7 separate regions of the Homo sapiens genome follow, and regions 1, 2, 3, 5, 6 and 7 are each linked to region 4. The links come from fine-mapping of genetic effects on gene expression. A gene starts in region 4. Each other region holds a variant in brackets. All regions are shown on one strand. Distances are between the middles of the regions. Region 1 overlaps KDM5A (lysine demethylase 5A). Region 2 overlaps SLC6A13 (solute carrier family 6 member 13). Region 3 holds the start of SLC6A13 (solute carrier family 6 member 13). Region 4 holds the start of KDM5A (lysine demethylase 5A). Region 5 overlaps KDM5A (lysine demethylase 5A). Region 6 has its middle 4.0 kb from the start of SLC6A13. Region 7 overlaps KDM5A (lysine demethylase 5A).

The links. PIP is the estimated chance that this variant, and not a neighbour inherited with it, causes the effect.
Region 1: its variant is fine-mapped to the expression of KDM5A in whole blood (TOPMed, PIP above 0.99).
Region 2: its variant is fine-mapped to the expression of KDM5A in whole blood (INTERVAL, PIP 0.97).
Region 3: its variant is fine-mapped to the expression of KDM5A in whole blood (TOPMed, PIP above 0.99).
Region 5: its variant is fine-mapped to the expression of KDM5A in whole blood (INTERVAL, PIP 0.98).
Region 6: its variant is fine-mapped to the expression of KDM5A in whole blood (INTERVAL, PIP 0.98).
Region 7: its variant is fine-mapped to the expression of KDM5A in whole blood (TOPMed, PIP above 0.99).

Annotation. Positions count from the first base shown.
Region 1 is chr12:333,888-337,956 of GRCh38, reverse strand. It overlaps KDM5A (lysine demethylase 5A), which reads left to right. Exons shown (of 28, transcript NM_001042603.3): 11 at 3,535-3,716. Among named protein-coding and RNA genes, the nearest start is that of KDM5A, 53 kb to the left of the region's middle. The variant C/T (reference allele first, on the strand shown) is at 1,737.
Region 2 is chr12:251,448-255,516 of GRCh38, reverse strand. The region is part of intron 2 of SLC6A13 (solute carrier family 6 member 13); the gene reads left to right. LOC102723544 (a long non-coding RNA gene) reads left to right here. Exons shown (of 3, transcript NR_120482.1): 3 at 1,770-2,075. Among named protein-coding and RNA genes, the nearest start is that of SLC6A13, 9.4 kb to the left of the region's middle. The variant G/A (reference allele first, on the strand shown) is at 2,009.
Region 3 is chr12:258,792-262,860 of GRCh38, reverse strand. SLC6A13 (solute carrier family 6 member 13) reads left to right here and starts at 25. Exons shown (of 15, transcript NM_016615.5): 1 at 25-72; 2 at 2,804-3,010. The coding sequence starts at 2,809. The variant AGG/G (reference allele first, on the strand shown) is at 2,186.
Region 4 is chr12:387,330-391,398 of GRCh38, reverse strand. KDM5A (lysine demethylase 5A) reads left to right here and starts at 2,079. Exons shown (of 28, transcript NM_001042603.3): 1 at 2,079-2,472. The coding sequence starts at 2,308. LOC105369594 (a long non-coding RNA gene) reads left to right here. Exons shown (of 4, transcript XR_007063149.1): 4 at 458-1,366. It also overlaps a transcript of CCDC77 not described here. RefSeq lists an enhancer at 1,622-1,916.
Region 5 is chr12:302,375-306,443 of GRCh38, reverse strand. All of the region lies in intron 24 of KDM5A (lysine demethylase 5A), which reads left to right. Among named protein-coding and RNA genes, the nearest start is that of SLC6A13, 42 kb to the right of the region's middle. The variant AG/G (reference allele first, on the strand shown) is at 1,997.
Region 6 is chr12:264,815-268,883 of GRCh38, reverse strand. No RefSeq gene overlaps it. Among named protein-coding and RNA genes, the nearest start is that of SLC6A13, 4.0 kb to the right of the region's middle. The variant G/A (reference allele first, on the strand shown) is at 2,264.
Region 7 is chr12:281,870-285,938 of GRCh38, reverse strand. It overlaps KDM5A (lysine demethylase 5A), which reads left to right. Exons shown (of 28, transcript NM_001042603.3): 28 at 277-4,069. The coding sequence ends at 483. Among named protein-coding and RNA genes, the nearest start is that of SLC6A13, 21 kb to the right of the region's middle. The variant A/T (reference allele first, on the strand shown) is at 1,604.

The DNA of each region.
Region 1 (4,069 bases), 53 kb after region 4:
AAAGTTTAGAAATAGGCTGGGCACGGTGGCTCATGCTTGTAATCTCAGCACTTTGGGAGGTCAGGGCGGGCAGATCACTTGAGGTCAGCAGTTTGAGACCAGCCTGGCCAACATGGTGAAACCCCATCTCTACTGAGAACACAAAAATTAGCCGGGCATGGTGGCAGGTGCCTGTAATCCCAGCTACTCGGGAGGCTGAGGCAGGAGAATCGCTTGAACCCAGGAGGTGGAGGTTGCAGTGAGCTGAGATTGTGCCACTACATTCCAGCCTTGGCAACAGTGAGACTCTGTCTCAAAAAAAAAAAAAAAAGTTTAGAAATATTTGATTCTATGTTTATCATATTGTTTCGTTTTTCAAAACTTATGTTTCCCTTTTGAATATAGGATAAATCTCAGATTCTCAGTCCAAAACTTAAGATTAAAGATCTCATCTTTTTTTCTAATGTTATTTCCTGTGTTTTTGCGTATGACTCTTCCATTCTGCCTTTTCACCAGCTAGACTAGTATATTCTCTCTGTAATTTACCTTTTACATTCTTGTAGCTCTTCCTCCTAGAATGTTTATTCAAATCTTATCTATCCTTCAAAGCTCAACACAATTTCTTCCTTGCTGTGAAGTTTTCCTAACAATCTTTATTAGTCCATTCTTGTACTGCTATAAATAAATACTCGAGGCTGGGTAATTTATAAAGAAGAGAGGCTGTACAGGTTCCACAGGCTGAACAGGTAGCATGGCTGAGGAGGCTTCGGGAAACTTTCAATTATGGCAGAAGGTGAAGGCTAAGCAGGCACGTCTTACATGGCCAGAGCAGGAGGAAGAGAGAGAAGCGGGAGTTGCCCCACACTTTTAAACAACCAGATCTCGTGAGAACTCACTATTGTGAGAACAGCAAGGGGGAAATCTGCCCACATGATCCGGTCACCTTCCACCAGGTCCCTCCTCCAACATTGGGGATTCCAATTCAACATGAGATTTGGGTAGAGACACAAATCCAAACCATATCACAATCCAAACCCATGATGATCACTGTTTTATTGTCCTCTGAAGAACTGTATTTTCTCTTCTATATGTATTTGGAATTTTATATATGTTACCTTGTATTGTAACTTTTTTTTTTTTTTTGAGATGGAGTCTCGCTCTGTTGCCCAGGCTGGAGTGCAGTGATGCAATCTTGACTCACTGCAACCTCCACCTCCTGGGTTCAAGCACTGCCTCAGCCTCCTGAGTATCTGGGGCCACAGGCATGCACCACCACGCTTGGCTGATTTTTGTATTTTTACTAGTGATGGGATTTCACGGTGTTGGCCAGTCTGGTTTCGAACTCCTGACCTCAAGTAATCCACCAGCTTCGGCCTCCCAGTGTTCTTTTTGTTTGTAGACCTTGTCTCTTCAATGAAATTCACTATTTTTCAGCCAGCCAGCTGACCAACCAATCACAAAACATATTGAGTAATAACCTGTTGAGATTCTTTTATTTCCTTTTTTGTTAGCCTGTTGAACTTTAGGAATAGATCTGTCATTTCTTATTGGAATTCTTAGTTAAACCTGTGTTGGACTTTGTTATTCCATCCTCTGTGACTTTTTTTTTTTTTTTTTTTAGTGAGACAGGGTCTCACTCTGTCTTTCAGGCTGGAGTGCAGTGGCATGATCTCGGCTCACAGCTTCAATCTCCCGGGCTCACGGGATCCTCCCACCTCAGCATCCCTAGTAGCTGGAACTACAGGCGCACGCCACCA[C/T]GCCTGACTAATTTTTGTATTTTTTGTAGAGATGGGGTCCCGCCATGTTGACCAGGCTGGTCTCAAATTCCTGGGCTGAAGTCATCTGCCTGCCATGACCTCCCAAAGTGCTGAGATTACAGGCATGAGCCACCATGCCCAGCTTCTCTCTATTTTTTTTTTTTTTTTTTTTTTTTTGAGATGAAGTATCGCTCTTGTTGCCCAGACTGGAGTGCAATGCCGCGATCTCGGCTCACTGCAATCTCTGCCTCCCGGGTTCAAGTGATTCTCCTGCCTCAGCCTCCCCAGTAGCTGGGATTACAGGTGCCCGCCACCATGCCCAGCTAATTTTTTGTATTTTTAGTAGAGACAGGGTTTCACTATGTTGGCCAGGCTGGTCTCAAACTCCTGACCTCAGGTCATCTACCCACCTCACCCTCCCAAAGTGCTGGGATTACAGATGTGAGCCACCGTGCCCAGCCCGCCTCTCTGTGACTCTTAATTACAGTTTGATAGTTTATATATTTCTGTGCTGCCTTATAGATAATCTCCTCAAACATGTCTTCTAGTTCACAAATTCTCTTTAGCTTTGTCATTGGCTCTTTAACTTCTTACCTTGAGGGTTTTTTATTTTTAACTTGTATTATAGAAACTTCTAAACAGTAAGCACAATAATGACCCTACCCCCACCCCTGCCAGTTCCTGACATCCACATTCAGTTATCAACTTTTTAATAGCAGATTCTCATATCTGCTTCTGCATTCAATCTGTTATGATAGCACATACCATCTTTCCCCTGGAAAACTCACACTGTACTCCTGCAAAAATGTAAGTGAAAAAGACAAATAATGTCTTAGAATTATTGTGAAAATAGTTTGACTTAGTGGATCCTCTGGATCCCATTTTGAGAACTGTTCTCCATAAGGATGATAAGCACTTTAAGTCATAGCCTCATATGGCTGCAGAGATGGATGTTTGAAAGTCCTTCTCCGGTGCCAATATCCAAGTAGAAGCCCCTGTGAAAACTCTTGCAACAGCTTCCTTTTTCATTATGGCTTGCTTCCACTCTGTTTCCAGAAACTGGGAATTCCCTTTTCTTTTGGGTTCACCTATGAAGTTTTTTTGGTTATTGTTATAATTTATCCAGTATTTCTAGGTGTGTTTGTATAATGGTTAGGAGTGATGGTGGTGACTTTCTGCATCCTGTCAGTCTTATTGTTATAATTTATCCGGTATTTCTAGGTGTGTTTGTATAATGGTTAGGAGTGATGGTGGTGACTTTCTGCATCCTGTCAGTCTTATTGTTATAATTTATCCGGTATTTCTAGGTGTGTTTGTATAATGGTTAGGAGTGATGGCGGTGACTTTCTGCATCATGTCAGTCTTCATTGTTGTCACAAGTTCAAGATTATGTATATTGTATTTTGTCTTTACAGTATCTAGCACCATTCTATCAATATAGTAGTAAACATTTTAGGAAATTATGCTACTGGCTATAAAATAGAAATAGTGATGTTGTATTAAGATGGGTCTCATACTGTTTTCCTGATTGGCTGGAGAATAACAAGAATTGCTCATGTGCTTTGGAGTAAACCAGAGGTATCTGAAATAAAGGGAAATCTAAATAGAACATAGACAGAAGGTAGGATTAAATGTTTAGTTATATGAGTTACATGTAGTGGATAGCAAAGAGCACAGATTGTATGCACTAGACTATTATAAATATTATAAAAAAATTTTCTGGGAAGACTCCCTTGGCATTTCTATTGAGCACTTTTCATTTCTGATCTTTCATTTACAGTTTTTTCTTCTCTTATAGGAATATGCACTTTCTGGTTGGAATTTGAATAACATGCCTGTCCTGGAACAGTCTGTTCTTGCACATATTAATGTGGACATCTCTGGTATGAAAGTGCCGTGGCTCTATGTGGGAATGTGCTTCTCTTCTTTTTGCTGGCACATTGAGGATCACTGGAGTTATTCCATCAACTACTTGCACTGGTATGTACAGTCTAAAATACAGCATGCATGAACTCTACTAAAGTCTAGTGGATTAATGATGCTAGGTTTTTGATCTTTAAGGTTTATAGACAGAAGTATATTTAAGGTTTCAATAATTTCTAGCCTTGGCCTATTTCTTTGGGTAGTAAAATTGAACTCAGTGAAGCTATTTAGAAGTATCCTAGAGAGCACTGACTTATTTTGATCATTGTGGGGATAATTGAAATGTCCATTATTCACATGGACCTCTGAATCAAGGTCATGTGTCAGCATCCTTTGGGACAGTGCTTACTTTTCATATAGTGTCTTTCCCGTTTGAAGGTGTTTTCACTGATCCGCCTTACAGAGTTCAT
Region 2 (4,069 bases), 140 kb after region 4:
GCCGTGTTGGCCAGGCTGGTCTCGAACTCCTGACTTCAGGTGATCTGCCCACCTTGGCCTCCCAAAGTGCTGGGATTACAGGCATGAGCCACTGCGCCCGGACAGTCATCTTACATTTTAAAATAATCTCTCTAGCTGGTATGTTGAGAACTGAGTATAGGGGAGTGAAGGCAGAAGCTGACTGGTTATAAGGCAAAAATCTTGGAGTCATCCTTAATTTCCTCCACCTCTCATAGCTCTTGACTCTACCCAAACACCCAGGTCCTGGGAGCTTCAGGACCTCTCCAGCTCCCTGGACCCTGGTTGCTGGCAGAGCGAGTAGCTCAGCACCCGAATGCCTGGGACTAGAGCCCCCGCGATGAGATGTGCAGGACCCGACCACTTCTCATCCCCTCCACTGCTAGCACCCATCTAAGCAATCCGAGAGTTTTCACCTGAGTGACTGGAAGGAAGGAGCTGCCATTCACTGAGACGTGGAAGGCCATGAAGGGAGCAAGGTTTTGTGTTTTGTTTTGTTGTTGTTGTTGTTTTTAATAGAGAGGGGGTTTCGCCATGTTGGCCAGGCTGGTCTCAAACTCCTGGTCTCAAGTGATCTGCCTGCCTCGGCCTCCCAAAGTGCTGGGATTACAGGCATAAGCCACTGTGCCTAGCCCCAGAGGAGCAGGTTTTGAAGGGAAAGTAAGGAGGTGAATTTTGGGAAAGTTGAGTTGAGGTATCTATCAGATGTCCATGTGGAAATGGCAACTGGGCAATAGAATGTGAGTTTGGGGTTTGTGAGAGAGATCTGGCTGGAGGTGTGTATTTGGGGATCATTAGCATTTTGATGGTATAAGAAAAGAAAGTAAGGACCTTTAGTGGGTCTGGGAGAAGATGGGAAACCAGCAGAGGAGACAGAAAATGAGAAACTGGTAAAGCAGGATGAAAACCAAGAGAATGAAGTGTTTTGGAAAGTCGAGTGAAGAAATTCTATCAGGGAGGAGGGAGAAATTAACTGCAGCAAAGGCTGCAGATAGGTTAAGAAGATGAGGAAAGGAAATTGATTGTTGGTTTTAGCAGCTGGGAAGTCATTGATGATAAGAGCGGTTACAGTGGAGGGCTGGGGACAATGACTGATTGAAATGGATTTAAGATAATGGGGGAGATGGGAGAAAGGAATTGGAAATAGTAAATGTGGGTTATTGGGGCAAAATGTGGGAGTAGGTAAAATCCACCCCTTCCTTGTGTATTTCCCTTCTGGGCGGAAGGGGGCCATGTGAGTCCTGCGTAGCAGTGACAGTGTGCCAGTGGCCAGACTCCTCGGGGGTGGGGCCCTGAGCTGGCGAGGCGGCTGAAGAAGCTTGACATTTGAACTATTCCTCCAGCCCTCCACCCTCAGCTGCCAGGAGGGAAAGCAAATACGATTTTCTACTAGGGCCTGCCCAGTTAAAGTTCCAGTCATGGGACGAGGAGATGCTGGATAACGCAGGAGGCGTGATGTGGGAAGAAGGTAGCGGGAGAGGGTTCTGGTCATAGGACTGTCCATAGCCAGCGGGGAATTTAAATCACCTTCCTGCCTATCTCAGCCCAGATGAAAAAACCGTCTGCCAACATTTTCACTTAATTTCTAAGTCCAGGTTGCTGAAATTTCACTCGGGGCAGAAGTTACCCGTGCCAAGAACCTTTTAAGTTTTCCACTAGTCTCAGGACACCAGCTGGAGACCATCTTTTGCGAGGACTTCCTCCCTGTCCCCTCCAACTCCTCTTCAGAGCCTCAGTCTTCCCATACCTAGGTCCTGGGTGCTTCAGAACACGGGCCTTCAGCTGAGACCTCTCCAACTGCCTGGACCCTGGCTGCTGGCAGACCAAGTTGCTCAACACCCAGAATTAACTTGGGACTGGAGTCCCCATGTGAGGCCACGACAGGAGGCACACAGCAGGACCTCTCAGAAGGGCCTGGAGGGGAAAGATCCCTCAGCTCCAGCCTGTAAAGAAGGTGCACTGGGATGCCCACACAAAGAGGATTCCCTTG[G/A]CAGCAAGGAAAACCATTAGCCCTGTGCTGTTTATAGATAGCAGAGAATAAAGAGAAATAAGAAGCACTGTTCGTGTGTTCATATAAAAGTAATGGTTAATTTAGCAGTGAGTGACAGTGTGTTACCAAGTGTAGTTAATGACTCAGGGCCCACTGTTGGTCAGGCTCATGCCGAGGACAGCACATAACTCCTCATGGAAGCTCCTCGCTCTTCTGTTGCTCAAGTGGAAGATCGTCAGTTTATGCCGTAAGAAATTGGCTGGAACGTTACAAGTGACACCACAGAGCGTGCTCCTTTTGAGAAGGGGGGCCAAGAGAGTGATTGCTTTCTGGGACGGGGATATGGTCTCTCCTATCTCACGGAGAAAATGCCAGCACATTTTAGAATTTTTGAGGAGACTAGTATGGATGATATGGGGGTGCAGGTTACTGTGAACTCCACCCCCCATCCCCAGGACTAACTTCATCTTTTGATGGTGGTACCTGCGGAGGGGAAGAGGCAGAATGCCCTTCAGCACTCCTCAGTCCGTACCTGGCCCCCTTGGCTCCCTCCCACCCCGACCCCTCTCACACTTCTAGGGCCTGTAGCCCCTCCTTGCAGGTGTGGACTTTGTCCCTCTTGGCAGGCTGCCAAGGAGCTCAACGAGGCAGAGGAAGGAGGTGGGAGCAGCTGACCACGGGGCCCAGAGTTAAACATTGGCTTGGTTTATAGAGAAAGAGCAGGAAGCATGAATATGGGAAGGGGCTTGGGCTGGGCCCATAGCTGTTTCTTTCTGGACTGGGCTCTCCACAGTGACTGTTCCTGTCAGCTGCTGGGTTCTATCTTTCCTGTTTTCCTTCCTGCTCAGCAAACCTTGGGTTGATTTATGGACTTCTTTGGCTGAATTGTTTGCTACCTTTCCTTCTTTGTCCTCATGATCAAGTCCCCCTTAGTGCCTGAATTATGGATGTGTAGAATACAACCTTGAGAAGTGGGAGGTGAAGAACTGGAGAACTGGGTTCCTCATTAACTTACAATAAACCACACATAGTTAAAGTGTACAATTTGATAAATTTTGACATATGTATATACGCATGAAACCACTGCCACAATTGAGATAGTAAACATGTCCATCACTTCCAAAACAGTTACTCCTGTCTCTTTCTAATTCCTTCCTCCCAACTTCACTCCTGCCATCACATCCCAGTGCAATCAATAATTATGCTAAATGCAAACTAAACTAGTTTGTTTTTCTTAGAATATTATATAGATGGAATCATACAGTGTGTTGATAATTATGAAAATTGTGATACCACCATACCTTAGTTTGCGTTTCTTAGAATATTATATAAATGGAATCATATGGTATGTTGATAATTATGATACAGCATAATTATTTAGGGTTTCATTTATAGTTTTCATGTATCAGTAGTTTATCCTTTGTTATCGAGGTATCTTCATATATTCTAACACACAAGTCCTTTATCAGAAATGCATTTTACAAATACTATTTTTTTCATTCTGTGTTTTGTAATTTTCCTTTTCTTTTTTTTGAGATGGGATCTCACTCTGTCACCCAGGCCGAAGTGCAATGGTGCAGTGCAATGGTGCAGTCACGGCTCACTGCATCCTTGACCTTCTGAGCTCAAATGATCTTCCCACCACAGCCTCCCAAAAGTAGCTGCGACTATAGGCATGTGCCACCATGCCCGGAAAATTAAAAACTTTTTTTTTTTTTGGTAGAGACGAGGTCTCACTATGTTGCCTAGGCTGATCTCAAACTCCTGGGCTCAAGCGATCCTCCAGCCTTGGCCTCCCAAAGTGCTGGGATTACAGGCGTGAGCCACTGCACCTGGACTGTTTTTCCTGTTTCTAACAGTGTCTTTAGAAGAGAAGGCGTTTTAAATTTTTATGATGTCTGGTTTATAAATTATTTATTTTATAAACCATACTTTTGATATCATATAAAGAGATCTTTGCCTAACCCAAGGCCTCATATTTTCTTCTAGAAGATGTATAGTTTTAGGTTTGACATTTAGCTCTATGTTTCATTTTGGCTTAATTTTTGTATACAGTGAAGA
Region 3 (4,069 bases), 130 kb after region 4:
GCCAGCACCTTCTCCTTCCCCCTTAGATAATTCTTCTCCCCTGACTGGACCTCTGGCAGCAGCTTCACTAAGGTTCGAAATGTTTTCTTCTCTTTTTTTTCTATTTCTGCGTCTCAGACTGCAGGTTGGTGGGATCCATGGGACTTACAACCAAAGGACTTTTTTCTTACCCTCGCCTAGAAAGTACGCTTCTGACATGTATGTGTGCAAATGCAAAGATTATGTGCTATTTTCTTGACTTTCTGAAACTTGGGTGGCTGTTGACTTAAGTGACACTGTGATTTGGAAAGAGAGAGCCCTAGATTGAGAGGAAAGACAACTGGATTTAACTCCAAGAAAACAAAGTCTTTCTTCTCTGAGAAAAGAGAACAATGATCAACTCTGACAGGACTGAAAGAAAACAAAAATTTGAGTACCTGTTATTCTATTAAGTGTGTATACATATGTATATTTCCTCATTTAATTCTTATAGCTAAGTATATCCTATCTATCATCCCCACTTTTACAGATGAACAAACTAAGGCTCAGAGTCATTCATTAACTTCTCTGAAGTCAGACATTGGTATGAGAAAAAACTAATGTTTGAACCTGGCCTCATCTGACTCTACAGCTCATGACCTTTCAGACACAACATGCTACCTCTGAGAAGCAGCTCTAATGAGGCTAAGGGAGCCAGGAGAAGGCTACTGTTTCTCCTAGGGTCTGGGAGGGTGGAGAAGGGAAGGCTTTCCATCACTGGGAGAGATCCATCAGCTGGTAAAGGGAGGGGAGGCCAGCACAGTCAGTACCTTAGACAACCTTCCCAAAAGGACTGAGGAGCCCTCTTGGGACCAGTTACTTGAGTTTCTCCTTTGTAGAAAGGAGCTCATTCCCTAATTTATCAGATAAACATAGATGCCTGCTGTTCCCTGACTTTTTTTTTTTTTCTTTTTTTTGAGACAGAGTCTCGCTTTGTTGCCCAGACTGGAGTGCAGTGGCGCGATCTCGGCTCACTGCAACCTCTGCCTCCTGGTTTCAAGCGATTCTCCTGCCTCAGCCTCCTGAGTAGCTGGGATTACAGGTGCCTGCCACCATGCCCAGCTAATTTTTGTACTTTTCGTAGAGACGGGGTGTCACCATGTTGGCCAGGCTGGTCTCAAACTCCTGACCTCAGGAGATCCACCCGCCTCGGCCTCCCAAGTGCTGGGATTACAGGCGTGAGCCATTGCACCCGGCCTGTTCACTGACTTTCTAATTTTCTGGGTCAGAGCCAAAGTAGAGTCTGTGGCCAGAAGAGGTTACTGCTGAGAAAGTTCTGTTAACATGAACTTTGCTTGAGGCTTAGAAAAAAGTCCATCTGCCTCCTTCTCCAGAAAAGAGGCCACTCTGCAAAATCAAGGCAGAGTCATTAGAAGATGCTTTTAGTAGACACACCAGTGAACCTAGGCAGCCAATGTAATCAAAGGGATGGAACTGAAAGAGCAGGGGCAGAGTGGGTTTAAGTCCTGGCTGTGCAAGTTAGTAGCTATATGGCAGCAGCAGTCACATTATTTAACCTCTCTGAGCTGCAACTTCCTTATTTATAAAGTGGAGGTAATAATGCTTACATCTCAGGGTTGTTGTGAGAATTAAATGAAAAGAATGTATGTGAAGTGCCTAGTCTATAGTAGTTGCTAACTAAATGTGGGCCACGTCCAGTCATCCTCAATCCCAACAGTGGTCTGGAATGGGCCATTTCTGACAGTGAATGGTTAAAACTGTGGCTTTTTATTTATATCATCTTCTCTACTGTCACAGACTCCTAATTTGTCATCACCAAAAAAGAAAAAGAGCGCATAGTAAATCTCTGCCTTACGCTGATTTCAGAGAGACATAGAAGGAGTACTTAGACCACCTCATCTTACTCACAATTCCTGGTCCCACTCAACCTCTCCCAATCCTTTGACAGGATTTTTTTTTAAAACCGGCTTTTATTTTTATATTACAAAAGTAAAACACATTTTTGATGTAATTGTAGAAAATATAGATAAGGAAATGTTCCTATAACCCAACTGCTGAAAGAAAAACATTTTCATGGCTATCCTACTCCTTCAATGCCTATAAATACTTTATAAAATATTTGTCAAGCATGATCATATTGTATGTACTGTTTTTTACTATATATTGTGAGCACCCTTTTGTGCCGATATACTTGTTTCTATAACAC[AGG/G]TTTTAATGATTATATATAGTAGTCCATTATATGAATGTGCCATAATTTATCAACATATCTACCATTTTTGACAATTTATGTACTTTCCGATTTTTCGCTGTTATGAACAATAAATATCCTAATGCTACACCTTTCACTCACAATCACAATTATTTCCTTAGCATAAATTCCTGCAAGGGAAATTGGTGGCTTTGAGGACATGTAAAATCCCATCCTTTCAACGTGTCCCAGCATACAGAGTAAACAGACTGAAGCACATGCTAATCCCGACGAGGCTGACTGTAGGGTGGCAGGGAGAATTTAGACAGCACAGCGGCCCATGAACTCCTCCATGTCTGCAATCCTCAACCCAAGAGGGCCTTATAGTGGAAGCAAAGGCTGTCTGTCAGTACCAACACTTTCTTCCTGAAACAGGAAAGGAATATATGTTTTCAGTAGCTGTCACCCAGCTTCTACCAATGAGAACTGCTAAGGAGGACATGGTCTACAGGGAAGGGAATAGAAATTCACCTCTTCCAGTGCATTCATTCCCTTATGGATTTGTTGGTAAAAGCAGGAGGAGGGGTTTCCTTCTGGGGTTCCCAACAGTAACAGAGCATCCCACTTGTTTTCCAGGTGGGATGGATAGCAGGGTCTCAGGCACAACCAGTAATGGAGAGACAAAACCAGTGTATCCAGTCATGGAAAAGAAGGAGGAAGATGGCACCCTGGAGCGGGGGCACTGGAACAACAAGATGGAGTTTGTGCTGTCAGTGGCTGGGGAGATCATTGGCTTAGGCAACGTCTGGAGGTTTCCCTATCTCTGCTACAAAAATGGGGGAGGTGAGATGAGAGCCCTTGTGCCACCCCACCCACTCCTGGAAGGAGGATACTTCCATCTCCTGCACTTACGGCCCCTCTGGGGAGTCCCATAGATGTATAGAATTCTGGAGGTAGGAGGACGCTTAGAGGTCATTAAGGACACTCTGTAAGAGACTAAGACCTAGAAAGGTTACGTGACTATCCCAGGGCTCTTTCTATTATAACGTGGCATCGTAGAAATATGAGCACAAGCTGGAACCAGGTGGATGAGAGTTTGGATTCTGGCTCTGCTACTTAACACTCTGTGTGATCTTGGACAAGTTACTTAAGCTCTCAGAGCATCAATTGCCGCTCCTGCAAATTGAGATAATAATGCCTGCCTTTCAAGGTCATTGTAAGGATTAGAGACAATGTGTGTAAAGCACTTAATAAATAGTAGCTCTGCTGATGATGACGTTGATAACCAAACTGTTCTGTGGTCTTAAGTAATAAATAGTAGCTCTGCTGATGATGACGTTGATAACCAAACTGTTCTGTGGTCTTAAGTAATAAGTAGTAGCTCTGTTGATGATGACGTTGATAACCAAACTGTTCTGTGGTCTTAAGTAATAAGTAGTAGCTCTGCTGATGATGACGTTGATAACCAAACTGTTCTGTGGTCTTAAGTAATAAATAGTAGCTCTGCTGATGATGATGTTGATAACCAAACTGTTCTGTGGTCTTAAGTAATAAATAGTAGCTCTGCTGATGATGACGTTGATAACCAAACTGTTCTGTGGTCTTAAGTAATAAATAGTAGCTCTGCTGATGATGACGTTGATAACCAAACTGTTCTGTGGTCTTAAGTAATAAATAGTAGCTCTGCTGATGATGACGTTGATAACCAAACTGTTCTGTGGTCTTAAGGTTCCCCAGCCTTGGTCTTGTGTCTTTTTCCTACTTTGCTGGCACGGTGAGGCTCCCTAAGCCATCCATTACCCAGCCCCTTCTAGTATAGGCTCTCTTTTTAAAAATTTCGCAGCACAAATGTGTGCATGTTGTAGGGGGAGCATGACCTCCAGCTCTTTACTGTGTCATCAT
Region 4 (4,069 bases):
ACTACAACTTCCACCTCCTGGGTTCAAGCAATTCTCCTGCCTCAGCCTCCTGGATAGCTGGGATTACAGGCGCCTGCCACCACGCCTGGGCTAATTGTTGTACATTTTTAATAGAGACAGGATTTCACCATGTTGGCCAGGCTGGTCTCAAACTCCTGACCTCAGGTGATCTGCCCGCCTTGGCCTCAAAAAGTGCTGGGATTACAGGCGTGAGCCACTGCACCTGGACATAAATCATTATAATAATTGTATGGAATTATTATGAATCACAGCGTCCTGTGTCTACACCCCTTTGTAATGTGACATTGTCACTCTTCTCATAAAAAATTGGAATTTTCCCACTTCTTGAATCTGGGATGGTCTTATGACTTGCTTTGACCAACAGAATATGATGGAGTGATCTTGTACATTTTGGAGTCTAGGCTTTAGGTCTTTGCTTCCACTCTCATCTTCTTAGAATGCTAAGACCACCATGCAGTGGAAAAGCTCCATCTACCAGAAGATGAGAAGCCATGTGGAGAACTAAGACTTCCCAGCCAATAGCCAGCACCAACTGCCAGACACGTAAGTGAGGCCATCTTGAACCCTCCAACCCTAGATGTATTCACGGTTCTCCAGAGAAACAGAACCAATAAGATGTGTGTGTGTGTGTGTGTGTGTGTTTATAAAGATATTTATTTTAAGGACTTGACTCACTTGATTATAGAGCTTCCAAGTCCAAAATCTGCAGGGTGGGTTGGCAGGCTGGAGGCCAGGGAAAAGGTGATGCTACAGTTCAAGTCTGAGAGCCATCTACTGGCAAAATTCCTTCTTGCTCATGGAAGGTCAGTCTTTTGTTCTATTCAGGCCTTCAGTTGATTGGATAAGGCCTACTCACATTATGGAGGGCAATCTGCGTTATTCAAAGTCCCCTGATTTGTTACTCAGAGGTGAGAAAAATCATGGTGTACTAAAGTCACCACAAAAACTTCTGTAGATCATATGGAGAAGCAGGAGAGATGAAGCTGGAGAGCAAAGCAGCAAATCAGCAATTAAAAAAGATGTTTGGAGTTGTTGAGTTTGGAGATGAAAAGTGACAAGATGAATTCTGGATTTTAGACAAAGCAATCCAACGTGTGGATGGAGAGGGATTTGAGAGGAGAAATCAGCTGTTGTCAGTAAGAGTATTTAAATTAGGATACTGGTAACGGGGATGGAGAGACACACGATTATACATGGGAAGTGAGAGCAGAAAGAATTAGGATTATTTCTTGATTTTTTTTTTTTTTTTTTTTTTTTGCTCAGGCAACTGAATAGATGAAGTCATTAATGGAAACCAGGAACACTGAAGAAACAGTGAACAATTAAAGTACTTTGAGTTATCAAAGTGAGATGTCCTGCAGGTAGCTAGACGATACTGGCTGGTAATTCAGGAGAGCTGCTGCGTCCTGTGTAAAAGGAAAAGCAATTCATGGATGGTGGCTAAAGCCAGCTGGCAGGATTTAGGGGATGGGTTAGACCTGCACTTGTTTTGATGGAGAAGAGGCGGGTATAAAGTGGCAGAGTGAGATTACTGTAAAATATCTGCATTCAAAGGGCTAAAAAAAGAGAAATGCTGGAAAGGCTACTTGCTATAAACGCAGCAGGGTAGGTTAAAACAAATTACGAAGCACGGGCGGTGAGGCGCGGTGCTTAAGATTAAGCCCGGCGTGTTTTCGAGTGCACTGATACACAAAAGGGAAAGGGACCCTCCTCACCGGAAGCACAACCTCTGCCCTCTGGGGCATTACACATTCCTCCGCGCCGGAAGAAAGCGTCACGTCGCGTCGCGCCTCGCCCCGCCTCGTTGCGCCTCGCCCCGCCTCGCCCCGTCGGCTTCCCTCAATCCGTACCTCTAGTAAAGAAGAGCTTGTGCCCCTCCCCGACCCCTTACCAAGGGCGAGCTGCGTGGAGTCGTTGGACTGGGCAGAACTTTGGCGGGCAAGGAGACAAACAGCCACACTGTGCTGCCGGGGAAGAGAAGAAGAAGGAAAGGCCAGACACACAGGCGTCGTGCAGCTGCGGAAGGATTCCGTTTCCTGCAGGGGGCGGAGGGATTTGACAGCACGGTAACTTCCGGAAAAGTCCTGAACCTCAGTGGAAAAGCCTTGCAAGAAACAATAACAAACGGGAGGAGGAAGCGATTCTGGGGTTTCTGTGTTGAACGGTTCTTGTCCGCGAAGATGCGCTTCGGCCTCTGTCAGGGGACTTGAACGGGCTTAGTGGGCTTCAGCCAGCTTTTCTCCACCGGTTCCCCACGGGGACCCCCCCCCCCCCCCGGCCGTTGCAATGGCGGGCGTGGGGCCGGGGGGCTACGCGGCGGAGTTCGTGCCACCGCCAGAGTGCCCCGTCTTTGAGCCGAGTTGGGAGGAGTTCACAGATCCGCTCAGCTTTATCGGCCGCATCCGGCCTTTGGCGGAGAAAACCGGCATCTGCAAAATTCGGCCGCCCAAGGTACCTCAGTCTGTGAAGAGAGAGGGGGAGAAGGAAGAATGGGGGAGTCCGTACACTGGGTTTAGCTTTACTTTTCTGATCCTTGTCTCGTTTCATATGTACTCTCTTTTGAGACAACTGGAGCCTGTTTCTGGATGTTTTTGCCTCGGTTTCTTTTGTGGTCTTATGTAGACACGTCTGAAAGCGAGAAAGTGGTGTCTCTTGGGCCTCTTCCGCCTAGAACTTGGGAACTGATACTTTTCTCTCAGCCGTGGGCCTAAAGCCTTTCGTTAGCCGATATGGTGTTTAAAGTACAGTATTATGACGTGACGTATTCTTCCCTCACGTATCCTCATTATGGTTTGATAGTCGGCTATCTCTTTATTCAAGACCTGGTTGGATCAAATATTTGCAGGCCTCATCTCAGGGCTAGGGTTTCTGAAAAGGTTATCTGAGCTCTAGTCTCACCGGATGGTATTACTAGACAAGAACTCCAGACTAATTATTGCCGCAGTGAAAAAGTCTTAGCGGGGAAAGAGAAGGAGCAGCAATAATTCTAAAATTTAGAGGTTTAGGAAAAATTGGTTTATAGTGGAGGTGGAAGGAAATGTTGAAATCTCTTGACGTAGGGAACTCAAGATCAACGATTTTAGAATCACAGTTATTGCAGATAACTAGGTTTGCCTATAAGGTTAATTATAATCTCACCTTTGAGGTAAGGAAAACAGATACTATCCCTTGTGTGGAGGGGATTAATGCCCCAAGAGGTTGAGTGATTACTCAAGGTCAAAGGTGTTTTTCTTTACTCATTAGACCAGTGCTTTTTAAATGATGTTGCTGGACCACTTGCACCAGGGTCAACTGGATGCTTGTTTAAATGCAGATCTCTAGTCTTGTTGTGGAAGTTCTGGAATCTGCTTTTCTAGCAACTAGTCTCAGATGATTCTCATGTAAGTTGAGGTTTTCGAACCATTGCTTTAGTCGTTGCTTGTTAAAGGCATTTTGCTTTATGTTTTGTCTAGTATTAGTAATGATAAAATATTAAGCACTGTTAACCAGTGTTGCTTTTTAAAAAGCATCTGCCGTCACCACTGACTACCACAGAGATAGGCACCGCAGCGTATTAAAAACTTAAATGACAGCGAGGAGGAACTAATTTAACACCTATAGATTGTTTGCTTTAATCTTTGAAGCCCTGACAGGTAAATAAAGTCCGCCTTTTACAGATGAGGCTAATCTGGATAAGTTAAAACACCAAATGTGTGATCTTGGGCAAGTGGCAAAGTGTATTTTGAACCTAGATCAGTTTTTCTGATTCTGAAACAGACGTAATGCTCTCACTATGTTGAATGACTTTGTTTAAGGTTATAGACTACTCATTTCAAGCAGAGGATTAACAAATAATTGCTATGATGATACGCATTGCCATCCTCCAAAAACTTCCATTTAACCCTTTTTTCTATCATAATTACCTAATATTAACAAATCTTAAGCATTGAAGGTTTTCCTAAGTCATATTTTTATCTACTCTTGAATTTATTAATTAGAAATTCTATTCACGGTTACTTTGATTAAAAAAAGTTTTTTTACTTAAAAAAATGCTGAAATAATGCTTTCT
Region 5 (4,069 bases), 85 kb after region 4:
AATAGAATTAAAAAATCTGTATTTGTTTTACTCATCTTATAATCCCTTATGGCTTAGAGGAACTAGAAAAACAATATGTAAAGCTTTCTTGGCCAATTTCAGTTTTTCAGATTTTTTTCTTTGAGTTGTGAAAGTCTGTATACAGTTAAGTTTTAAGAATTCCATTCTAGGCTTGGTGTGGTGGCTCATGCCTGTAAACCTAACAATTTAGGGGAGACTGAGGTGGAAGGATCACTTGAGCCCAGGAGTTTGAGACCAGCCTGTGCAACATATTGAGACCCCCATCTCTACAAAAAATACAAAAATTAGTTGGGTGTGGTAGCACACACCTGTAGTCCCAGCTACTTGGGAGGCTGAAGTGGGAGGATTGCTTTGAGCCTAGGAGGTCGAGGCTGCAGTGAGCCATGATTGCACCACTGCCCTCCAGCCTGGGCAGCACAAGACCTTGTCTCAAAAAAAAAAAAAAAAAAAAAACACTTCCATTGCTAGAGTCTTTTGCTCTGCTTTCTCGTCTGGATGGTGCTAGATAGAATGTCACATTCGGAGATGGGTAATATAATACTTGGGCCCAGGTTAGAATTTGCTGAGTTCCAGTTGCAGATACAACAAATTATTTACCATCAATGTGATTATTTTGGTAATGACACGTTACTGGTGGTGAAGAGAAGGTTTTGACAAGTTTGTTTTGTGTTGGATCCAGTTGGCTTTTCGTTAGCCCTTTTTGTCAGGTGCAAGCCCTTTGCTTTTTAACCTAGTAATAACAATGTGATTAGGCAGAGACCCTGCCAGATTACAGTCAATCCATTGACTTGTTTTATATGATTCTTAGTTGCTTTGTTTAGAATCTATTCTTGTAACCTGGGAATTCCTACTCTGATACAAAAGGCTGCTTCCAGAGAACAAGGGGAGATTCTGTTCCTACCCCTTCACTATCTTTTATTTGTCTTTTCAGCTTGCAGATCAGCATGGTACTGCTCATTAATCTCATCAGCATTAAAACTCCTAGGATATAAAATTAAAACCATCCATCATAGACGCTCGTAGATTCCTCTGCTGGGAAATATTTTTTCTCAAGATAGAAATGGGAATTTTCAGTTATGTGACTTAAAGACTTGAAAACAGTTGAAACTTGAATTAGACTGTTCAAATAATCTTTTTTTATATTAAAATATCTTATTATATGGTAGATTATTATTTTTCAGTTTTGAAAGTTTTGTGAACAGATGGCCAAGTTTTGTTGCACTGATTTTCAAGGGCTGATTGAGGGCCATTATTAAGAAAAGAGGCATTACAGTTGCGTACAGTTCTTGAATATCATCTTAGTGTACTGCTAAATCCCATTATGAAGAATTCATTGGCAGTCTGCTGAAAGGTACACTAGCTTATACCACACACAGCGGTACATTCTTAAGCACGTTGTTATCCAGAAGTTAATGACTATCTTTGTTTACGAAGTTGTATATAGGGTGACTAAGAGCAGCTGAAAAGAAATGCAACCCATGCCAAGTATAATTAGCTTTTTCCTTGAATACTGGAATCACCCGTTTACCCTAGTTAGAGGCCTTTGATATTTTTGGTGGTTGCTTTCTAGCACATTAGCTATCAGCCACTCTTCTAGAATTGCTTAACATGATGGGCTTTGCTTGAAAGCAGACTGGTAACCTATGAAAACATCACAAGTATTGATGATTTTCAGGACTAGGGATCACAACTGCAGTTTCATATGGTTGGATGGAGTAGTCTTTTTGTGGAGGAATTTATATGAGAATCTTAGCTTACTGTCTCTTTGGTAGTGGGTATTGGCAGGGTAGAAAAATAAGATTATGGATTTTCTAGTGTTAGCAATGTATTTGACAGCTGAGAAGAATGGTGGCAAGACTTATGGTAATTCAAGTTCAAATTTACTTTGCAGTCAGATGCTCTACCACTGAGCTATATACCCCTGCCAATTTACTTTGATGTTGATATCTTTGAATGAAAAAAAAAAAAAAAAAAA[AG/G]CCTATACTCTTGAGCATTTTCCCACAGAGCAAGCGATAATTGTATAATGAAAATTTTATTTGCCGGTTTATTTGCATTTGACCTGGTGGTTTTTTCCTTTGTGTGATGTCCTCTGTTGTGACCATAAATTCATAACTTAAAATACTTTGAACTTAGTATTCTTGCTTGAGGAAGAGCCCCCTCTTGGTTTAGGAGGAGGGGTAGGTAATTATTTAGTAAAATAAAATCAGTCATTTTATCTTAGTTACCATCCAGAAAATCATTACTTACGAGGTACATATTTAATGAAGCAAAGTCTGTCCTGCATCTTTTGGGATTGTGTCTATGTAGGTGAGCTTGTGGAAACTAATTTCAAGGAGAATCATAGACCTAATCAGAGCTCACTTAACATTGCAAGGACTTTAAGTGTAACAATGAGATTAATGGGCAGTACCAAGCTGATCTGCAAGCTGAACTTATTTTTCCCCCTCATCACTGTTATAATGAAATGAAAACAACTTTATTCAAAGACCTGCTACTATACTTCCTTTTGCTTAAAGGCAGTTTCTAAGAACCTACCAATGACATTACATGAAGACTTACTGTAATCTATATATTGTCAGTCAGACATATACTTGTATTAAGAGCAATTGGTAAGATTCTAGGTTTGAAAACCTGTAGAGAGGATTAAATGGTTTGTGTCCTTAGGCTGTCACATCTAAATTTATCTTCCCCTCCTTAACTTGTTGGTATAGGAGTTATTATAGGTTGTAGACTATAGAAGGTAGATTACTTAACCATAATTTTTTTTGTATTATACTTTAAGTTCTGGGGTACATGTGCAGAACGTACAGGTTTGCTACATAGGTATACACGTGCCATGGTGGTTTGCTGCACCCATCAACCACATTAGGTATTTCTCCTAATGCTATGCCTCCCCTAGGCCTGCACCCCTGGACAGGCCCTGCTGTGTGATGTTCCCCTCCCTGTGTCCATATGTTCTCGTTGTTCAACTCCCACTTATGAGTGAGAACATGCAGTGTTTGGTTTCCTGTTCTTGTGTTAGTTTGCTGAGAATGATGGTTTCCAGCTTCATCCATGTCTCTGCAAAGGACACGAACTCATCTTTTTTTATGGCTACGTAGTATTCCATGGTATATATGTGCTGCATTTTCTTCATCTATTCTATCATTGGTGGGCATTTGGGCTGGTTCCAAGTCTTTGCTGTTGTGAACAGCACTGCAGTAAACATATGTGTGCATGTGTCTATAGTAGAATGATTTATAATCCTTTGGGTATATACCCAGTAATGGGATTGCTGGGTCAAATGGTAATTCTAGTTCTAGATTCTTGAGGAATTGCCAGAGTCTTCCACAATGGTTGAACTAATTGACACTCCCACCAACAGTGTAAAAGCATTCGTGTTTCTCCACATCCTCTGTAGCATCTGTTGTTTCCTGACTTTTTAATGATTGCCATTTTAGCTGGTGTGAGATGGTATCTCATTGTGGTTTTGATTTGCAATTCTCTAGCGACAGTGATGATGAGCATTTTTTCATATGTTTGTTGGCTGCATAAATGTCTTCTTTTGAGAAGTGTCTGTTCATATTCTTCGCCTACTTTTTGATGGGGTGGTTTTTTTCTTGTAAATTTGTTTAAGTTCTTTGTAGATTCTGGATATTAGCCCTTTGTCAGATGGATAGATGGCAAAAATTTTCTCCCATTCCGTAGGTTGCCTGTTCACTCTGCTGATAGTTTCTTTTGCTGTGCAGAAGCTCTTTAGTTTAATTAGATCCCATTTGTCTATTTTGCCTTTTTTGCCATTGCTTTTGTTGTTGTAGTCATGAAGTCTTTGCCCATGCCCATGTCCTGAATGGTGTTGCCTAGGTTTTCTTCTAGGGTTTTTGTGGTTTTAGGTCTTACCTTTAAGTCTTTAATCCATCTTGAGTTAATTTTTGTGTGAGGTGTAAGGAAGGGATCCAGTTTCAGCTTTCTGCATATGGCTAAGCCAGTTTTCCCAACACCATTTATTAAATAGGGAGTCCTTTCCCCATTTCTTTTTGTCAGGTTTGTCAAAGATCAGATGGTTGTA
Region 6 (4,069 bases), 120 kb after region 4:
GAGCGGGTAAAGTTGGGATTGGGCTTAGTGTGAAGGAGGAGAATATAGGGAAGAGGGGGTGAAAACCCGTGGCCAAGGCCTTGAGAACAGGTAGAGGGGCCTTCCTCCCGCTACAGTCACCACTTTCTGTGACGTCAGTTCACTCCTCCGAGTTTATGTGGCTGTTATGGCTGAGAAAGAGAAAAGAAGCCCCTGACAGCTGGAAATTGGACAGACACTATCAGTTAGGCTTTGTATTGCTAGGAGCTGCCCTGGTGTTTGTTCTCACATGTCAATGTCAGGCAAGGCCACTCTGTGATCATGGTGGATCCAGACACAAATAAGATCACCCTGTGATGATGTCTGAATAAAGACAACAACGTAAACATTGTCCAAACCACACAAGCGATCGAACATCTTTTGCCGGCTAACACAAGTGACTGCTCCTTCCTTGCCAATCACAGCTTTTCACTTCACTTCGTTCTCCTGCTTTCTAGACAAAATCCATTAGGAAACCTAATTATAAAATTACTCCTCCTTCCTCACAGCATCCAATCCAAAGCAAAGCCCTGCTTCCTGAAGCCTCCTGAAAATCACCTAACAGAAATTCATCCGATAACAAGTCCTCAGCGACGCCCTCTGACTGAGACACCTCACAGTTTACATTGTGTGCACTCTCCCTTGTTGCCACGAGTAATGAACCCAACTTGTGTGTTCCTCGCGGTCTTTGGCTCACGGGCATTGACGGCACAGTTTGAGCAGGCTGTGTCTGTTTTTTCTTGTTTGGGGAAACAGGACAGATGAGAGCTGCCATGTTTCCCAGTCATGGGAAAACAATCATGTTTCCCTTCTGGGTCCCCTCTCTCTCTGGGCTGAGACATGAGAGATGAGATTCCGGCCACACTTTGCATTCCTCATCAGTCAGCTGTGTGATCAGTGCATCAATATATTTTTCTCATCACAAATAACGTCCTGCAGTGGTGGTTAAAAATGTTTAGGATAAAAGACTGTCCATCGATTGAAGTTGCTCTTTTTAAATGTCACTCTGCCCTAATCCCTCACCGCAGCTCCATAGTGTCAGGGTGTCTCCATTCACTCAGAACCCCTGCTCACTAACTGTTCATCAGCCAAGAGCTTCCCACTGAGACTAGTTACATAAGTGTTGCAAACTGTATGTACTCTGAGAGTCAGACAAGAAATCAGGGAAACAGGGATTGGAAGAAACAGGATAAAATTGGGAAATAACTGCAATTACTTTTCTAGAGTTAAAGACAAAAGGTATGATTTTCCTTAATAGGGCAGAGTAGTAGGAGAGAATTGTGGAACACATTGGGATAGGAAGAGAGCCTTCTGATTAGATTTTTAAAGTATTATTCAGGTCTGATGAGATTTTCAGTGAAAGCAACATTTTTCTTGTCATTTTCGTTATTCACCTCTTTCCTAAGAAAGTTATGTTTAATCCCACGGGCCAGCAATAGCCAAAATAAACAGTACTAGAGCTGTGCTTTTTAGTGTTTTTCTTGTCTTTTTTCCTCCCCCTCTAGACTTAAAGTATAGATAGCATGGTAGCTATAAGTAAATAATGGACTTTAGAATTCTACAAACCTGAGTTCAAAACCTGGGTCTACCATTTACTAGTTATGTGGCCTAGCAAGTAATTTAATTATCTCTAAGCCTTTGTTTTCCTGTCTTTAAATGGTCATGTCAGTAATTCTTGTGTCGTAGGTTTGTTCTGAGGATAAATGCGATGGTGCCTGTGTAGCACTTAGCACCACGTCTGGCACATTTGAAATGCACGACAAACGTTACTAATGGTAATGGTTGACGTCATTAATATTCTTTGTCATAAGTCTTGTTTCTTTCAGATCTTGGGTCTGGCATGGTGGCTTACGCCTATAATCCCAGTGCTTTGGGAGTCTGAGGCAGGATTGCTTGAGGCTAGGAGTTTAAGACCAGCCTGGGCAATATAGCAAAACCCTATCTCTATAAAAGATTAAAAAATAATTAGCTGGGCATGATGGTGCAAACCTGTAGTCCCAGCTACTGGGGAGACTGAGTTGGGCGGATCCTTTGAACCTGGGAGGTTGAGGCTGCAGTGACCTATGATTGTGCCACTGCACTCCAGCTTGGGCAATAGAATGAGACCCTCATCTCAAAACAAACAAACAAACAAACAAAGAAACAAGAAAACAAATTGGAGTTGATAGAATTTAGGTGAATTATCCCATCTGGGATCAAACAGAAAACGCTTCACAGTTTTCAGTGACACCTCTGGTTTCCGCAC[G/A]TAACATCCCAGAGCTTTTCACAGCAGGGTCAAGTACTTGGGCTGTAATAGAGTGTAAACAAAAATCTTCAACAACAACAACAAAAAAAAAAAAACCAAAAAAACTTTATTTTAAGCTAATTTTAGACTTACAGAAAAATTGCAAAAATAGTACAGAGAGTTTCCATCTTTCACTCAGCTTCCCCTAACGTTAGCATCTTTCACAACCATAGTACAATTGTTAGAACGAGGAAATTAACATTGGTAGAGAACTATTAAACTAAAGACCTTATGCAACTTTCACCAGTTTTTACATTCATGTCCTTTTCTATTCCAGGATCCTATCTAGGATCCCATTCAGGACCCCACATTGCATTTAGTTGTGATTTTCCCTTAGTCTCCTGCAGCCTAAAACACTTGCTCAGTCTTTGTTGTCTTGTCTGTCTTGTCTTTCATGACACTTTTGAAGAGTAGTGATCGGTAATTTTGTCAAATGCCCCTCACTTTGGGTTCGTCTTATGTTTCTTGTGATTGAACCGCATGTTTGGCAAGAATACCACAGAAATGTTGTGTCACTCTTAGTACATCATATCCATGGTTCATGATATAGAGAGATATTGATGTCTTATTACTATCTTATTACTGGTGATGTTGACCTTGGTCATTTGGTTAAGGTGGTTTCTGCCTGGCTTCTCTACTTCAAAATCACTATTTTTCCCTTTGTAGTTAATAAATATCTTGGGGGAGACACTTTGGAATTGTAAAAATTCTGTTCCTCCTGGAACTTTCACCCACTAGTTTTAGCATTCATTGGTAGATCTTGTCTGCAACAATTATTATAGTGGTGTTTGTCTAATGGTGATTTTCTGTTTTTCTCTTTCCTTCTACATTTATTAAGACTTCTTTTTCTTTGAGATGGGGTCTTGCTGTGTTGCCTCAAACTCCTGAGCTTAAGTAATCCTCCCACCTCAGCCTCCCTGAGTAACTGAGATTACAGGTGCATGCCACCATGCTCGGCATCCTTCTATATGTATTAATTGGAATTCAACTGTAAGGAAGACTAGTCCTTTTATCCCACTTATTAACTTGTTGGTTATTTGTATCAGCATGAACTTATTAGTGAACTTTGTTCTTTGGGCTACAATCCAATACTATCATTATTCATTTTGTTGTTCAAATTATTTCAGTTATAGCAAAAGCCATAATTTGTTGTTTAGTCTGTTCTACTTGCTCTTTTCTTTTCTTTCAGTGTGATGTTTGAAAAGGGATCCAAAAAGTCAACAGGTTTCTGACTCCTGTGGTTAAACAGAACTATATCTCTTAATTTAAAGGTCTCCAGAGGAGAACCCACCACTTCCTTTGCCACCTTGATGTTGCTCAGAAATGTTCTTTCTTGAAACAAATCGTGCTGCTTTTAAAATTTGTTTCTGTGAAATGTCAAACTAGAAAAAAATTTTATTTGTTCTTATTCCACTCCTAGTAGAGTCAAACAATTTTTGGGAGAGCGTATCATGGCGTACTGTCATTTAAACATACCTGGGATCAACTTGGTACAAACCAGGACTCCTAGGCCTGCTTTTTGCGTGGTTCACTTTGTTTTATACAATCCTGTTGTTGGAAGCACAGCCTTCAATTATCCTCACTGACAATCTCTAGTGAGTCTTAAAACTTATGCAGCCTCTTGAGTAAGAACTGTTGAATACGGATTCTGTTGTTACCTGTTTTCAGGTTTCTTGACTTTGCACCCAGCAGACCAAAGGATGATGGCAACGTGAGGTAGATGCAAGGCTAGTCATGCCTGTTTTGTGTGGAACCCCAGACGGGAAG
Region 7 (4,069 bases), 110 kb after region 4:
TCAAACATGTTTCTGCCTCACAAGGAGCCCCAGGTATTCATGAGGTAATGGAGTACCTAAGAGGCCTAATTTTGTGGACACACTATGGTGAAATATAATTTTGGGGTATTAACTTCTCAGCTTCTTTCTTTAAAAAATAACCCCATAAGAAGTCATTGCCTATCTAGACATCCCAGTTGTTTGCTATTGTTTAAGCCAAGAAAGCTCTTTGGTTTGCTTTTATTCTAGGCTTAATGTTTATGTAACCTAAACATTCCCCAATCTTGTTTCCTACAGGTAGACTGGGTACAATGTGATGGTGGCTGTGATGAGTGGTTTCATCAAGTTTGTGTGGGTGTATCTCCAGAAATGGCTGAAAATGAAGATTACATCTGTATAAACTGTGCAAAGAAGCAGGGGCCAGTTAGCCCAGGTCCAGCACCACCTCCTTCCTTCATAATGAGCTACAAACTACCAATGGAGGATCTTAAAGAGACCAGTTAGCAGATGCTTGGTTAGTTTGGGACATGGGGGGACATGGACCACATTGAGACCTTAGTCATCAAGTAGAGTGGTTTATATCCACTTGGAATGTTGCTTCCAAAGATGAATGGCCTTCAGAGAAAGTCCCCTTAGTGCTGGCTTCCTCTTTGCATGGACTCTGTGGGTTACATTCTCTATCAACATATCTATGCAGAGGGTGTCTTCTTTGGTACAACAGCCAATATTTCATGTCTCCTTTGAGTGTGGTTTACTGCATTAAGGCCAGATGCTTAATTGAGCTCTAGGGTGGCTGGTTAGTATTAATACATTGGTGTGCTAACAGGGCATATAGGATGTGGCTTTTGTCCAGCTGATAGTAGTTAGAGGCTTACAACTTAGGAGCAGCACCAACTGAAGGTGCTAATTGCTTGGATCTCCTTCATTGGGATAGTTGGAGAGGGATTGGAGTACCACTTTCCTTCCACTGTTACCTGGTACTTAATGCCCTAAAGATACAACTAGGAGTAACAGGGCCAAAGTTATTTCTGTTAGACGTCAAGGAATGGTATCACAGTCTATTGACCTCAGCGATTTGTGCTTGTTTGTGCTAGAAGAACATCCCAAATAGGAGAACCTCTCACAAGCTGGGGCAGGTCACCTTATCTTTGTAAGATGAGGATATCATCTAGATCAGAAATCTGACTAGATTGGATTCTGAGGAGAAGAACCTACTACAAGGCAAGGAGCCGTTTTTTGGCTTTGAAAAGTCTTGCTGTCTTGGGTCTACATTTTAGGGAAGAGCAGGTACATGGATCCAGGCTTCTGCCAAAAAAAAAAAGAGAAGAAGATGACGATGATGACCAGTCGTACTATCTTACTGAGCCACAGTGATGCATGCTTTTCGGGGAAAACTTCATTCACAAGTATTCCAGACACCAGGCTTCAGGCATGGCCATGAGCAAGACCAGCAAATAACAGCTTTTTGCCTTGCAGCCCTGACCCCAATGTCTGCTGTTTCCAACACTGGTGATTTCTAACTACGGCCCACAGCAGATGCTGTTGAATAACACCATGGCTTCATCAGAGGATGTGGGGTTGTAGTACCTCTGGGTGATGAAGTTGTTTTAGTAAATCCATTTTT[A/T]AAAAAAAAAAAGGACTTGTTTTTACTTTTTTCTAAATGTCTCTGACTACTGACTGTTCTATACATAGATTATTTTTCCTTTTTTAATATACATATATGAATATATAAATATATATATTTACTGTTACCAGCAGCATATGACAGAGTTTCAACATCAAAAATCCATTTGGGGGCTTGCTTTTTCTTTTTTGCTTTAAAAAAAAAAATCCCATTCCTTCTTTGTAGTACAAGGAGTTAGCACTCCCTCCTCCATCCCAGCCTGACCAGATCTTCCATTTTGCTTTTGTTCATATAGATAATTATATGTCCTTTGTGTGTTGGGACTTGTCCCTGTCTGTTGGGAAACTTGGTCTCACTCTAGTCTGTGCTGGCTCTTTTTTCTTTTGTGTGTGAATGTTTGAAACTATGGTGCTGTGTCCTCTTCCCTCCTGTTGTGTTCTCTGTTCTTCTTAAGGTATTAGGTAAGCTGTATGTAAACTCTTATTAGAAGGGGACTAATTTTTTTTTAAAGGACAAAAAAAAAAATGACTAAAAATAGTGTTTTGTCATCACTGTCTGGTGTCTTTATTTTGGTTTAAAAAAATCTGTGGTTTGACTTAAATTCATCAGTTTTCCTTTTAAAGGGGGGATTGGGGTGGACCTAGCAACAGCTTATAGTTTCCTCTTCCCTTTTTGCCCCAGTCTCTTTTAAAGAACTGTCTTCTAGTAACTAGAAGTGAAATGTACTGTCCAGTTACAGTTTGAGTGGGTATGAGATTTAACTCAAAAGGAATCTTACAAAAAAAAAGATGTTTTCTTATAAAATCCAATTTCTGTAAATGTTTTCTCTGAAGTTCATACTACCTACTTTTTATTCATTCTTAATACTGTATAACATTTTGAGTGTTTTGACTTGTTCAGAGGTTTGTTAGTGTTGCTGTGCATATGTCTTGAGGTCTCATCTGAAGTAAGTTTGTGTATGATCGAAGATTTCAATGGATATTGCAAGGTAACTAATTAACTGATTTCATAAGTTTTCGTTTTGCCAAGCTAACGATTATCAATTAAGAATTTCCTCTGGTTGATGTTATACAAGAAAGCACAATATTTTTTGCCTGTTGATCTTCTTTGTAACAGTCTTCAGATATTTGTGGGTTAAAAATTGAATGTAATTTTAAGTGACAGATGCCTGGAATACATTTAAAATTTTTATTTTTCCTTCCTAATCATCCATTAACTATTCCACTATCAGTGGAGAGTCATGAGGATGCTGAGAAAGTATGAATAGCTTCCTGTCACCTTCTGACGTTTTGAAACTTAAATATGTCTTTTCGTTGATACTGTGGGATTTTCTGTATTTACTTGACAGTCATGGAGGATTTGGTATGACTTGACCACAGGTTTAGACCAAGGCTGAGAAGAACAGAAGGGAGAAATTAATGGCAAAACAAAAAATACACAAATCTGCGGTTTTGGAATTAATGAAACAAGATTCATCTATTTAAAGAAATGTTGGTGTTCTAATACAAAGCATTATTTTCACTTAGAGAAAATTACTTACTTGCTCCCTTCTGTATTGTAATATTTTGTATTAAGACATGATTTAAAATGTCTTTCTACCCTTATCTCCTCTAAACTGCAACTGAAGTTGCAATTCTTCATCATTAGTATTTTAACTCTGGCAAAGGTTATAGAAAGAAAAATGGAAATATGGTAGGCCTGTGGTATTCTTAAAAGCTAAGTCATTAGAACTATGCAGATCCCCAAGTTTAAAAGTACAAATACAGCACCAGTAGTTAGCTTTCTAGCTGGGGGAGAAGACAGGAGATTTTTCTTCCACAGATGTTTATTTTGCTTCCTGATAGGTACTGCAGCAAAGCCATGTTGATGTGTAGATGCATGACTTCCTCACTAAGCTGCTGCACACCAGCTTTGCCTGCATGATTCAAATTTGTGCCTCAGTAAAATTATAAATTATTGCATGTCATACCTTGAATAATGGAAACGGCAAACATTAAACCTGTGATTACCCATAATGTACTTTAATAATAAAAAACATGGCAGCCAGGTGCAGTAGAGTGCACCTGTGGTCAGGAGGCTGAAGTGGGAAGATTGCTTCAACCTGTGAGTTTGAGTCCCGCCTGGTCAACAGCGAGACCCCATGTGTCTGTCTGTCTCTCTCTTTTTTTAAAGGACAGAGGCTAAGCTGTAAGGTTAGCATGGTTCTGCCTGGGCTTTGCTTCTGTGCTTCTGTGCAGGCTGAGCTGTAAGGTTAGCATGGTTCTGCCTGGGCTTTGCTTCTGCGCTTCTGTGCAGGCTGAGCTGTAAGGTTAGCATGGTTCTGCCTGGGCTTTGCTTCTGCGCTTCTGTGCAGGCTGAGCTGTAAGGTTAGCATGGTTCTGCCTGGGCTTTGCTTCTGCGCTTCTGTGCTAGCAGGTGCCCACAAAATGTCTTTTTGAATTTCTTAATTTTTGGGTTCTGGATGCA